4 linked regions of the Homo sapiens genome follow. The protein of the gene in region 1 purifies or fractionates together with the protein of each later gene. This does not show direct contact. Each region holds a gene or a part of one and is shown in the gene's direction. Other genes may lie near its edges.

What was found. The genes of interacting proteins can lie anywhere in the genome.
Region 2: the proteins of DGAT1 (region 1) and P2RY8 purify together in Homo sapiens (co-immunoprecipitation; one large-scale study listed by IntAct). This does not show direct contact.
Region 3: the proteins of DGAT1 (region 1) and TRDN purify together in Homo sapiens (co-immunoprecipitation; one large-scale study listed by IntAct). This does not show direct contact.
Region 4: the proteins of DGAT1 (region 1) and TMED5 purify together in Homo sapiens (co-immunoprecipitation; one large-scale study listed by IntAct). This does not show direct contact.

What each region holds. Positions count from the first base shown.
Region 1 is NC_000008.11:144,320,353-144,323,852, reverse strand, and holds part of DGAT1 (diacylglycerol O-acyltransferase 1), read left to right. Parts: intron 1-2,444; coding exon 2,445-2,532; intron 2,533-3,500. UniProt on the Homo sapiens protein: Catalyzes the terminal and only committed step in triacylglycerol synthesis by using diacylglycerol and fatty acyl CoA as substrates. Highly expressed in epithelial cells of the small intestine and its activity is essential for the absorption of dietary fats.
Region 2 is NC_000023.11:1,464,186-1,467,685, reverse strand, and holds part of P2RY8 (S-geranylgeranyl-glutathione receptor P2RY8), read left to right. Parts: intron 1-467; exon of another isoform or gene 468-655; intron 656-1,103; 5' UTR 1,104-1,127; coding exon 1,128-2,207; 3' UTR 2,208-3,500. UniProt on the Homo sapiens protein: G protein-coupled receptor for S-geranylgeranyl-glutathione (GGG), an endogenous metabolite present in lymphoid tissues.
Region 3 is NC_000006.12:123,626,951-123,630,450, reverse strand, and holds part of TRDN (triadin), read left to right. Parts: intron 1-3,500. UniProt on the Homo sapiens protein: Contributes to the regulation of lumenal Ca2+ release via the sarcoplasmic reticulum calcium release channels RYR1 and RYR2, a key step in triggering skeletal and heart muscle contraction.
Region 4 is NC_000001.11:93,149,414-93,152,913, reverse strand, and holds the end of TMED5 (transmembrane emp24 domain-containing protein 5 isoform 1 precursor), read left to right. Parts: 3' UTR 1-3,172; downstream 3,173-3,500. UniProt on the Homo sapiens protein: Potential role in vesicular protein trafficking, mainly in the early secretory pathway. Required for the maintenance of the Golgi apparatus; involved in protein exchange between Golgi stacks during assembly.

The sequences.
Region 1 (3,500 bases):
GGCCCTGGAGCTGCACTGTGTGGGCCCCAAGTGTGGGACTCACTGGGACCTGTGCCTTTGGGCACACTTTGAACCTGGAGACAGGGTGGCGGGTGGGCATGTGCCAAGGTCTCAGTGTTGCCGTGAGACTGAGAGGATCCTGCTGGCTGGGTGGGCCTGGGGGCTGCAGGAGGGAGGGCAGGCTGCTCCGAGTCTTCTTGGACTAGGGAGTGGGTGTAGGGACAGCTGGAAGGTGCAGAGGCTTGGGCAGATCCTCCAGTCAGTGAGAGGGTGATAAAGGTGCTCTAGGCACAGGGGCAGATCCCACCTCCCCATGCCGTTCCATGCAGCCTGCCCTGTAGCCCACATGCTGCTGGCCGCACTGACTGCTTGGAGCTCTGTGGGCACTGGTGGACTGGGGCTTCCTCCTCATGGGGGCCTGTGAGGGGTAGGGGTAGCGCAGTGGGGGTGCTGCCTCTGGGTGGGGCTGGTCAGGCCTGTGAAGGGCCTGAGGTGAGGCTGTGGCTGGGTTGAGGAAGGCCTTGGAAGCCTGTCAAGGGGCCCCTGAGAAAGCTTGTGTAGGATTGTCTGCAGTGAGCTTTGGGAAGCACCACCCTTTCCCGACTCCTGTTTTCATCTTGGAGATGGGCATGGATAAAGCCAGCATGGTGTCCTTGGTGGCTCAAAGGGGGCAGGGGTCATACTGCTGTGAAACAGCTGTGGTTGGTAGGTCGTGGTACAAGAAGGCCAACCCTGAGGCTTGGGATTGTTCTGCTGAAAACAAATGGGCTCGAACTTGGGGAAGAGGGGGCAGTGGAGAGGCCCCCAGACAGACAGCCCAGAGAGGCTGCTGGGCAGTTGGGCCTCGTGCCCCTGCTCCCGTCACGGTGCTGGGGCTCTGGCGGTGTCTACACCCAGCCTCCTGGTTGTGGGCAGGCAGTGAGTGGAGTAGGCTGGGGAGATGAGCCAAGGGCGGTGGTCAGTTGGGAAGACAGCTGCCAACTTGGGGAGGAGGGAGGCTCTGGTGGAGACCACAGCCTCACTGCATGGCCCAGGATGGACCTGGTGGGTGGATGCAGGGCGCTCAGGCTGGAGCTGGGAGAGGCAGGGGCTGGGTGGAGCTGCCTGCCCCTGTGTTCCAGTCTAGATGGGCAGAGGGAAAGGTGTGAGCATCCTCCCTGCCTGGGGGTCTTGGGGACTAGTGTAGACTTGTCCAGGAACTGTGTAGGTGTAGATGGGGCATGTGTTGCACCAACCTTGGTCTTGGGGAGCAAAGGTTGGGCTTGTTGGCATTGCCTCTCGGCCTCCCTGGCCCTTTGCCTCCTGGGCAGGGCCGTCTGACTGCCGACCCCAATCCTAGCCAGCTTGCCTTGGGTGCCCTGAGGGCGTCTGCCTCATGGGGCTCCTGCCATGGCTCTCAGGCCCACTCTCCCTGCCTAGGGGCTCTGAGGGGCAGATGTGCGTGTGCGGGAGGGAAAGGGAGGCTCTGGCCTCTCCTCTTACAAAGTTGAGGACTTGCTCAATGCTGTGTGTGGTGTCCCAGTGGCACGGCAGATGGGGGGTGAGGCGGGCCTGCAGCTAGTGTATATGAGCCAGCACTGCTTCCTAGGACGTGTGGGGGCCTGGCCAAGCTCTTGCTGTCCTTGTCCTAGCTATATGGCAGTCCCTCTATTGGGCTGGGTGCCCTCTTCCACCTGTGCAGTATGCTGAGGACCAGGCAGGGTCTGCCTGTGCCCCTCCAGCGCTGGTTGGGAGATCATGGGTGGGTGCCTGCCTCTGTTGGAAGCCTCTCAGCCAGCAGGCACCTAGCCCCGGGTGGGTTCCTTTCAGCCCCCTCAGCCTGGGCACACATCACAAACAAGTGGAGGCTACACCGGCACACGAGGGCTGGATCCCTGCCTCTGGGAAAGTGCATGTCAGGCTGGTGTGTGGCTGGCGCCTGGCCTGCCTTTGCCAGTTTGAGCCTGCACGTCCAAGTGTGGGGACCCCTTAGCTCCCGGGTGCTGGGATGGGCCAACTGAATAGGGTGGACTCAACCCTCACCACTTGGTCCCCACAGTGCTGGGCAGTGCCCCCTGGTCCATCCCCAGGTTGGACCCTGCTTGTGGCCCCAGTGCTAGTCCACAGCCAGAGTACATGGCAGTGGCCAGAGGCCTCTGGAGAGTGAGGCCTGGAGTGTCCAAGCTCCATGTAGGTCCAGTCCGGGCAGGGCCAGCTGGGCTTGCTTCTGACCCTGACATGCTCGTCCCGCTGCCTGGAGGTGCAGGCTCTGGGGGTCCGGAGAGCTTTGCCCACTGTAGGTCTTGAGGCCACAGTGTGGCTCTGCCTGGCTTCTCCTCCTGGTTGTAAATAAGGAGTGGGGCCTGAGGGCAGACGAGGACACTGGGGTGGGGGCCTGGATCCTGCGGGGGTGGCGCTGCCCTGCTGGTGCCCACTCAGGGGGTGCTTGTGTTGTGCTCTGTCAGGTGCCATCGCCTGCAGGATTCTTTATTCAGCTCTGACAGTGGCTTCAGCAACTACCGTGGCATCCTGAACTGGTGTGTGGTGATGCTGGTGAGTGGGACATGGTGTCGGGAGCGGGTCTAGGTCCAGGTGGGGCTCTGTCCCAGGCTGGCCTTTGCCTGAGAACAGGCTCTGTCACCCAGGGTGTCCAGGCTGGAGCCCCTGTGGGCTGGGGTGTGTGGAGCAGGCTGCACCTCCATGTGGCTGCCAGCACTGGACTGTTGGGGAGGGGAGTGGCAGTGGCTGCCCCTGCTGTGGTCACTTGGGTGCCCATGCACCACATACTTGCTGCTTCCCATTGGATCCCAGGAGAGCCCTGCAGATGTGGTGTGGGCGTGGGGAGGCCGAACAGTGCCTGGCTGGAGCCTGTGTGTTGTGAGCTGGGCCTGAGGGGTGCAGGGCCTCCAGGGAGGGCAGGGTGGAGGGGGTCTTGCCCTGGGCTGGTGGGAGAGTGGACTGCATGCTCTGTGGACACAAGGCCTCTCTGGCAGGGGATGTGAGAAGAGCTTCCTGTGCTACGCCACATGGCCTCTGTGGGTATGGAGCCCTGCAGGCCTGGCCACCACTCTGCAGTCCTCCTGGCCCCTTCCCTCAGCTGTGGGTCCTAGGAGCCCCCCAGGAAGGTGATTAGATGGAGCCCTGTGCCACGTCCAAGGCCTGCTACCTCTGGGCCTGGTTCCCACTGGCACTTCGTGGGGTGGGGCTGCCAGCCCCACCCCAGAAGTAGTTGGAGTCTAGGGCTCAAAGGGGCACCTGCAGGGCAGGTCGGGGACAAGGGCTATCTGGGCCCAGCCTCCCCAACTCAGGGCTGATGTGGCTCGAGGCCTTTGACCTTCACCCAGGCGTGTCTATCTCTGGCCTTGGGTGCTGCTCCTGTGGCTACCCACGTGGAAGGGGCTCCACGCACATCCACATCCCCCACCGCCCATGGTCCTAGAAGGTTCCCTGGGGGTGGCCAGCTGTGGAGGCCCACGAGTCCTGGTGGCTGAGAAGCTGGCCAGGCAGGAGGACAGTGGGCC
Region 2 (3,500 bases), on another chromosome or scaffold:
AACAAACAAAAGAACAATTCCAGGGCACCCCTGTTTCCAGCTCTGTCCACTTTACATTCTCAAAATAAAAGTAGTGTCCCTTTGACAGACACTTTTTCATCACCAGCTCATGGATAAAGCGTCTCTCCTTCCAGACGTCCCCCACGGCCACACCAAGCGGAACCCAAAGAAGGAAGGGTCTGCTTTTCCTCCTGAAGCCATAGGTGGCTGGAGGTGCCCAGCTGGCCGTGGGGAGCGGTGCTGACTCGTGCATAACTGTAGGTTTCACACCTGGGCACGGACCGGCGGGTCAGAAAACTTCTCCCTGAAACTGAAACGAAAACTCCGGGCCATTTTAAAGCCAGCTTGAGGAAGCTGTTTGTAGAGCAGTTGGTAAGAAGTCGCAGGTCTCCTCTGGAGGAAGAAAGAGCAGGGAGGAGCCGTGGGTTGACGCGGGTGTTAAAAGCTGGAAAGACTTTGGAGGCTGCGGGTTGGTCTCCTGGCACTCGGAGTGTGTGTTTTCTGCTGATAGACACTTTGTGGGTGGATGCCCCTGAGATGAGAGGACTCATACCCAGACTAATACTGCCAGGGTGTCAAGAATTCCCATTAAGACCACCCTGGGGGCTGACGGTGGCTTTGTGGTTTCCGTCCACGGGGGACACTGAGTCTTGAGGTTTGTATGACAATGCATTCAACCTGCCCAGGGGAGCCACAGCCCCACTGTGGATCATCTAAGAGTCTCAGCCTCTGACGTGGGCCGAGGTCTCCAATGACCTCCCTGATCCAAGGAAGGACGGGAGGGAGGGAGGGCGGGAAGGAAGGAAGGAAGGAAGGAAGGAGGGAAGAAGAGAAGGAAGGAGAGAGGAGGAAGGAAGAAGAAAGGGGAGAAGACAGGAAAGAAGAAAAGAATGACACAGGGTGAAGAAAGGAGGCAGAGAGGGAGGGAAGGAAGGAGGAGAGGGAAGGAGGAACTAAGGGAGGGAGGGAGGGAGGAGACAGCAGGCCCTGCTAAAGCATCTCCCCCGCCTTGGTCCCCGGGGAGCGGCGCTCAGGAGCCCTCCCGGCAGCCGCCTCTTTACCTGCGCCCCTGACCCGTACACCCTTCCCTCCTTCCCTTGCAGAGCCCGGGCGAGGACCCCTCCAGGATGCAGGTCCCGAACAGCACCGGCCCGGACAACGCGACGCTGCAGATGCTGCGGAACCCGGCGATCGCGGTGGCCCTGCCCGTGGTGTACTCGCTGGTGGCGGCGGTCAGCATCCCGGGCAACCTCTTCTCTCTGTGGGTGCTGTGCCGGCGCATGGGGCCCAGATCCCCGTCGGTCATCTTCATGATCAACCTGAGCGTCACGGACCTGATGCTGGCCAGCGTGTTGCCTTTCCAAATCTACTACCATTGCAACCGCCACCACTGGGTATTCGGGGTGCTGCTTTGCAACGTGGTGACCGTGGCCTTTTACGCAAACATGTATTCCAGCATCCTCACCATGACCTGTATCAGCGTGGAGCGCTTCCTGGGGGTCCTGTACCCGCTCAGCTCCAAGCGCTGGCGCCGCCGTCGTTACGCGGTGGCCGCGTGTGCAGGGACCTGGCTGCTGCTCCTGACCGCCCTGTCCCCGCTGGCGCGCACCGATCTCACCTACCCGGTGCACGCCCTGGGCATCATCACCTGCTTCGACGTCCTCAAGTGGACGATGCTCCCCAGCGTGGCCATGTGGGCCGTGTTCCTCTTCACCATCTTCATCCTGCTGTTCCTCATCCCGTTCGTGATCACCGTGGCTTGTTACACGGCCACCATCCTCAAGCTGTTGCGCACGGAGGAGGCGCACGGCCGGGAGCAGCGGAGGCGCGCGGTGGGCCTGGCCGCGGTGGTCTTGCTGGCCTTTGTCACCTGCTTCGCCCCCAACAACTTCGTGCTCCTGGCGCACATCGTGAGCCGCCTGTTCTACGGCAAGAGCTACTACCACGTGTACAAGCTCACGCTGTGTCTCAGCTGCCTCAACAACTGTCTGGACCCGTTTGTTTATTACTTTGCGTCCCGGGAATTCCAGCTGCGCCTGCGGGAATATTTGGGCTGCCGCCGGGTGCCCAGAGACACCCTGGACACGCGCCGCGAGAGCCTCTTCTCCGCCAGGACCACGTCCGTGCGCTCCGAGGCCGGTGCGCACCCTGAAGGGATGGAGGGAGCCACCAGGCCCGGCCTCCAGAGGCAGGAGAGTGTGTTCTGAGTCCCGGGGGCGCAGCTTGGAGAGCCGGGGGCGCAGCTTGGAGATCCAGGGGCGCATGGAGAGGCCACGGTGCCAGAGGTTCAGGGAGAACAGCTGCGTTGCTCCCAGGCACTGCAGAGGCCCGGTGGGGAAGGGTCTCCAGGCTTTATTCCTCCCAGGCACTGCAGAGGCACCGGTGAGGAAGGGTCTCCAGGCTTCACTCAGGGTAGAGAAACAAGCAAAGCCCAGCAGCGCACAGGGTGCTTGTTATCCTGCAGAGGGTGCCTCTGCCTCTCTGTGTCAGGGGACAGCTTGTGTCACCACGCCCGGCTAATTTTTGTATTTTTTTTAGTAGAGCTGGGCTGTCACCCCCGAGCTCCTTAGACACTCCTCACACCTGTCCATACCCGAGGGTGGATATTCAACCAGCCCCACCGCCTACCCGACTCGGTTTCTGGATATCCTCCGTGGGCGAACTGCGAGCCCCATTCCCAGCTCTTCTCCCTGCTGACATCGTCCCTTAGTTGTGGTTCTGGCCTTCTCCATTCTCCTCCAGGGGTTCTGGTCTCCGTAGCCCGGTGCACGCCGAAATTTCTGTTTATTTCACTCAGGGGCACTGTGGTTGCTGTGGTTGGAATTCTTCTTTCAGAGGAGCGCCTGGGGCTCCTGCAAGTCAGCTACTCTCCGTGCCCACTTCCCCCCACACACACACCCCACCCTGTTGCTGACCAAGGTGATTTTTGGCACATTTGTTCTGGCCTGGCTTGGTGGGACCCCACCCCTATTCTGCTTCTGTGAGTCCCTGATAGAGAAGGAGGTCCCATCAGGCCCCTGGAACACACTCAGGCTTCCCTGACTCAGGACAAGGACCACGGGAGGCCCAGGTGCGGAAAGGAGGCTCCGTGAGATGGGGTCCAGCCCATCCCAACACAAGGGTGCAGCTTGATTCGGGAGTTCCCCACCTCCTGCCCATTCTCCGCGTCCTTTTACCCCATGGAGAGCCTCAGCCATGGCAAGTCCATCTGGAGTCCAGGAAGCAGGCAACTGGCCTGACCCATGAGACCGTTTGGAGACCAAGCAGCAGATGCAGGTGTGGACCCCAGGAACCTACAGGGGTGTCAGCCGCTGAGCCCCCTCCCTGCTGTGTGGGTGGTGAGCAGGCTGGGTCTTTGTCTGTCTTCTTCTACACGGCATGTGCCTGCACCAGCCCCAACACCTGAGCTGGTTTAGCGCAAAGAAGAGCTCTGACTCTCCAGGGGTGCTGGGACATCACGTGGAATTGGATCCCAGGCTCTCTTGGGCGAGAAAGACCAT
Region 3 (3,500 bases), on another chromosome or scaffold:
TTAATCAGTTAACAATATTTAATATGAGAGAAACATAAAACAGTGCAACTAAGCAATTTTAAAATCATCTACATTGACCTTTGTGTTGAATATATCAATTTGAAAAGAAAATGGTTAAGATTTTCCAGTAAAGCTTTTGGTTTTATAGTTATGCTTAGTTGGAGCTTAAAGATAGTATTAAAACATTATTCTTTTCTTCTTTCAAACAAAAAGAAACCCGTTGGGGACATGTTTAATGTATTTTTAAAAAATACATATTATCTAATGTAACATATTTAAAAAGAACAAAGCAGGGGAAAAATCTTCATCTGGCAACTATGCATTAACATCATACAATAATGTCGACTTTACGGAGTTCAGGCTCCATTTTACTTAAAGTTCTAGGAAGATTTGTCAAGGTTAAGTTTTTGCTGTCTCCAGTTCCCACCTGCCCTGGATAATACGAATGACAGGCTTGGTTTTTTACAGAGAATACTTATTTGATTGTCATGTAAATATATATTACCCCTAGTGAGGGTTATGCAGAGACAGATGAACTTCCTGGTCCAAACAGATAGTAATTTTTATCTTCAAAGGAAACCAAAAAGAGTATCCTTGGCAAATGTGCAATGAATAAAGTCTTGCTCTGCTCTATACAAGTTAATGCTCTCTAAACATCAAACATCTCCACATCTCCATGCCTGAAGTGAAGCTGTCAAAGACACACAGAATTTACAATTGTGAGAGATTCTTTGGTATGTAAATGAGCTGTTTCCTCATAAACTGCAGACTCTATCTCACTTACAATGTACTTTAAATATTACATTTAAATATATGTGGTTTAGATATTTTCTAATTTGTTATCTGTGCCAGAAGCTAGGGCATGTGGTTTTCACCCAAACAAGTTAAAGACATGATATTTTGACCTATAAGAACAAAGATAATTTAAATGGAGCAACCTGTTCTTTATAGGGGAAACTTGGTTTCATTTAGACAGCATGAAGCTGGAACTCATTGTGACAAACCAGTTTTATCTTTGCTACGCATTTGCTGCATCATTCTCCCCTCCCTGACACAGGTTACTGAAGTGTTGAGAAAAACAAAAGAAGGAAAAACTCTTAGTATTTCAAACTTAGTTTTAATATGGTCTAGGGCATTAGTGAGCTCGTGGATGTGAGAGATTCAGTTTCCATTTATACAGACGTTCAAAATACATATTTAGCAAACTTTCCTTGGAAAATTGTCTGTTGCCTTTGAAAATAAAATTATCATGTGATTAGGGGAATTTTCTGTTTGAGGAAGACATTTAATATAATGTCAAGACAAAAATAAGAGATATGAAGTGGCACTTCTCTGACATTCACTGCTGGAGCTATTATTTTTGCCCATGGTTATTCTGATTTAACCTATATATTATTGACTAGGGGAAAAAGCGTACTGTAAAATCTGAAAGTTACTACAGTATAGTAAAATGCCAAGTTTGTGAATTTAAATCTGCAGAAATATTAGGCATTGCATTTAGAAAAAGGCAAGTTACCTCCATCTGAAATATAACAAAATTTTAGATTCTATGGTATTAATTATCATCCTAGATGTAGATTTATGAAGCAGTATGTCATGCCAGAGGTTTGGTTTTATTCAATATTTTAATACCTATTACGTACCAAATTGAATGCCTGACAATGTGGACACAAAAATGAATGATAAAAGGTCCCTGCTACATTGCAAAACAAAAAGAAAAGAGCAAAAAATAACAGTGAGAATAAAGACTGGACAGATTATAAAACATTTGATTCCAATTTGAATTGCAGCCATGTCTCTTTTTATTGCACTTTGCTTTATTGCATGCCACAGATATTGCATTTTTCAAAGAAAATGAATAAAGCTATCACCACCATTTTTCCAACAGCATGCGTTCATTTCCTGTCTCTGTGTCACATTTTGGTAATTCTCACAGTATTTCAAATGTTTTCGTTATTGGTATGTCTGTTTCGGTGATCTGTGACCATTGTTCTTTGATATCAATATTGTAATTGTTTTAGGTCACCACAAGCTGCCCCTATATAAGATGGTGAATTTCATCAATAAATATGTGTGTTCTGACTGCTCCAACAACTAGACATTCCCACTATCTCTCCTTCTCCTCAGGCTTTTCTGTTCCCCGAGACACAACAATATTGAGATTAGGAAAATTAATAACCTACAACAGCCTCTAAGAATTCAAGTGAAAGGAAGAGTTGCATATCTTTACTTTCAATCAAAAGCTGAAAATAATTAAGCTTACTGAGGAAGGCATGCCAAAAGCCAAGATAGGCTGAAAGCTAGGCCTCTTGCACCAAACAGCCAAGTTGTGAATGCAAAGGAAAAGTTCTTGAAGGAAATTAAAAGTGCTACTGAACACATGAATGATAAGAAAGTGAAACAAACTTATTGCTGATGTGGAGAAAGTTTTAGTGGTCTGGATAGAAGATCCAACCAGCCAGAATTCTCTTTCAGCCAAAGCCTAATCCAGACCAAGGCCCTAAATCTCTTCAATTCTGTGAAGATGTGGAGAGGTAAGGAAGCTGCAGAAGAAAAGTTGGAAGCTAGCAGAGGTTGGTTCATGAGGTTTAAGAAAAGAAGCCATCTCCACAACATAAAAGTGCAAGGTGGAAGCAGCAAGGATTGATGTAGAAGCTGCAGCAAGTTATCCAGAAGATCTAGCTAAGATCATTGATGAAGGTGGCTACGCTAAACAACACATTTTCAATGTAGACTAAACAGTCCTCTATTAGAAGAAGATGCCATCCAGGACTTTCAGAGCTAGATAGGAGAAGTCAATGCCTGGCTCCAAAGCTTCAAAGTTTAGGCTGACTCTTGTTAGGGAATAATGCAGCTGGTGACTTCAAGTTGAAGCCAATGCTGGTTTACCATTATGACAATTCCAGGGCTCTAAAGAATTACAATAAATTTACTTTGCCTGTGCTCTATCAATGAGATAATAAAGCCTGCATGACAGCACATCTGTTTACAACATAGTTTACTGAATATTTTAAGCCCACTGTTGAGATTTACTACTCAAAAAAAAAATTCTTCCAAAGTATTTCTGCTTATTGACAATGCACCTGGTCACCCAAGAGCTCTGATGGTGATATACAAAAAGATTAATGTTGTTTTCGTGCCTAACAGAAGATCATTTTTGCAGCTCATGGCTCAAGAAGTAATTTTGATTTTCAAGACATTTTTTAAGAAATACATTTTGTGGGCCAGGCTCGGTGGCTCATGCCTATAATCCCAGCAATTTGGAGGCCAAGGTGGGTGGATCACCTGAGGTCAGGAGTTCAAGACCAGCCTGGCCAATGTGGTGAAACCCTGCCTGTACTAAAAATACAAAAAATCAGCTGGGCGTGGTGGCAGGCACCTGTAATCCCAGTTACTTGGGAGGCTGAGGCAGGAGAATTACTTGAACCCGGGTGGTGGAGGCTGCAGTGAGCCGAGATCGTGCCACTGCACTCCAGCCTGGGGAACAAGAGCAAAACTCT
Region 4 (3,500 bases), on another chromosome or scaffold:
GATCAATTACCTTAATTGGCCAAGAAAATGCTTCAGGTGTCTAGGGGTATCCTCTGCAACACTTGCAGAACAAAGGTCAATAAGATCCTTGCCTATGAATACCCCTCCCTTTTGCGCTGTTAAATTTGCAATGAGAAGCAAATTTACAGTACCATAACTAATAAAGCAGGGTACAGATATAAACTACTGCATCTTTTCTATAAAACTGTGATTAAGAATTCTACCTCTCCTGTATGGCTGTTACTGTACTGTACTCTCTGACTCCTTACCTAACAATGAATTTGTTACATAATCTTCTACATGTATGATTTGTGCCACTGATCTTAAACCTATGATTCAGTAACTTCTTACCATATAAAAACGATAATTGCTTTATTTGGAAAAGAATTTAGGAATACTAAGGACAATTATTTTTATAGACAAAGTAAAAAGACAGATATTTAAGAGGCATAACCAAAAAAGCAAAACTTGTAAACAGAGTAAAAATCTTTAATATTTCTAAAGACATACTGTTTATCTGCTTCATATGCTTTTTTTAATTTCACTATTCCATTTCTAAATTAAAGTTATGCTAAATTGAGTAAGCTGTTTATCACTTAACAGCTCATTTTGTCTTTTTCAATATACAAATTTTAAAAATACTACAATATTTAACTAAGGCCCAACCGATTTCCATAATGTAGCAGTTACCGTGTTCACCTCACACTAAGGCCTAGAGTTTGCTCTGATATGCATTTGGATGATTAATGTTATGCTGTTCTTTCATGTGAATGTCAAGACATGGAGGGTGTTTGTAATTTTATGGTAAAATTAATCCTTCTTACACATAATGGTGTCTTAAAATTGACAAAAAATGAGCACTTACAATTGTATGTCTCCTCAAATGAAAATTCTTTATCTGAAATTTTAAAAGACATTGATTCCACATGTAAGGATTTTTCATCTGAAGTACAATAATGCACAATCAGTGTTGCTCAAACTGCTTTATACTTATAAACAGCCATCTTAAATAAGCAACGTATTGTGAGTACTGATATGTATATAATAAAAATTATCAAAGAAAATTAACTGCCAGTCATTTGTAAATGCTGTCTACTCCTGAAAGCCTTCCTTCATCTCTATTTAGTTAATAATGTGCTCTCTCCTCCTGTTTTGAAACCCCATAGCTCTCTACACCTCTTATTGTACATCACTCTACTTTGCATTGGAGTTCTGTTTCTATATGTACTTATTCACCTGTTGCCTAAACATGCACTGTTCCTAAAAGGTACAGTTTTTGCTCAAAATATATGAAAGGAAAGATAATCAGTTCTTAAAGTTTGGTATGCTAAATAAGCACCCAGGGAACTTACCTGCTCCACCTCACCCCAGAAATTGATTATTCAGGTCTGGAATATGGCTCAGGATTCTTAATTTTCAACCAACACAATATAGAATCCTGTCAGTTATCCTTGGATCATTTGCTAAGTGATCTTGCAAAATCAAAACTCCTTTGAGACTATTTCATTTTCAGAAATATTTTAAAACTTGTTCAGAAACATCTTAAAACTTGTTAGCATATAGGAAAAGTACAATGCTTGGTGTAGGTAGGTTATTATTTGGTCATTTCCCTCAAACCATCCAGACAAGCCACTCTTCTACCACAAGCTGGTAGAAATCCTTAGGCACCTTTCTGCTTCTGCACTGCTATCACTTTCAGGTGTCTAAGGCTTCTGGAAGGCTGTTGTCATAACCTGGAGCCATACACCTAATGTACGTCTGGGGAAAGGACACCAATTAAAGAATCTAGAGCTAGGATGATGTTACATAAGACAGGGCACAATGGAGATGGACTCTGGATCCCTGCATCTGAAAGAAAAAGGCAAGAAAATGCAGGGCAGGGAAAATCCTGAAGGTCTTCACTGACCATGAATTAAAATCCTAATTGACAGTTTTACAAACAAAAACCCTCGTTTTAGTACTTGTGTTGTTTTTGTTTCTGTTTTAACAAGCTTAGATTTATTATTGTGCCTTTTATGGAAGATGAGGAAGAAATAGGAAAGCAGTAAAATGAACAATGAGAATCTGTTACCCAAACTGATATAAACTCCCTCAGAAAGAAAGATACTACTCCCTAATCCTGGAAGTGTTAAGTGGCAATAATGATCAAATGTTGTAAAGGGGATTGTTACTACAGCTAATATGAAATGGGAGGCTGGACTAAATCTAACCTTTCTACCCTTGATTTCAATTCTAAAAGGACACGTAATACCATTGCAGAAAGAAAAGACAGTTCCAAATGATAAATTTTAGAGTTGTTTTGCTAGGATGCAAGAGAAATTGGATAAGTGGACCACTCATACGTTGCTGGTGAGATATGAAATAGTAGAGCCACTGTGGAAAATATTCTTGGCAGTTTCTTATAAAACTAAACATACATTTAACATATAACTGGCATTTGTACTACTTGACAGTTATCCCTGAGAAGTTAAAACTTAACATTCACAAATGTTACATAGCACCTTCATTTATAATAGCCAAAACCCGGAAACAACCTGGATGTCCTTCAAAAAGAGTGAATGGTTTAGTATGTCCACACCATGGAATACTAAATAGTAATATGAAGGAACAAACTACTGATACATGTAACAAATTGCATGGACCTCAAGGGAATTATGCTTGGGTGGTTTGGGGGGACAATCCTAAAGTTTTACACACTGTATGATTCTGTTTTTGTAACATTCTTAAATAATAAAGCTATAGAGATGGGAAACAAGATTCGTGGTTGCCAGGTCTTGGGACTGAAGGGAAGGAGAATGTGGCTATAAAGGGAGCCTTGTGGTGGAAAAGTTCTGTAGTTTGATTGTGGTGATTACATAAATATACATGTGAAATGTTAGAAGTATTTATAGCTGAAACATATTAGTATGTTGGTATATACATATTTCTGACTAATTAATTTCGCCATGTTGCCCAGGCTGGTCTCGAACTCCTAAGCTCAAGTGATGTGCCCGCCTCAACTTCCCAAGTGCTGAGATTACAGGCGTGAGCCACCATGTCCGGCCTGTTTTTTCCTATGCATGCATAATTACGATCAAGTTTAATTTGTAATTAGGCACATTAAGAGATTAACAATAGCTAACAAAATGGAACAATTACAACAATATATTGTAATAAAAGTTATGCAAATGTGGTTTCTCTCTCTCAAAATATCTTGTACTCACCCTTGTGAGGCTGTGAGATGTCATACAATGCCTACATGAAGAGATGAAATGAGGTGACTGATGTAGGTATAAGTGATGTAGTTAGGCTACATTATCATCAAAATAACTTCGGGTAATCCTGGATCACTGAGCCAAGGTAATGTTGATGGTTAAGGAGCAGACAATGTTGATGGTTGGGGATCCTCAATAGGTGAAGGATTTCTATTTTGGGGTCTTTTTGCTGAAAAATTTTGGAAGAACACTGTAACCAGAAGTTGTTGACTCTTCAGCTCATCGAAGTGTTGCTGCAGAGACTGT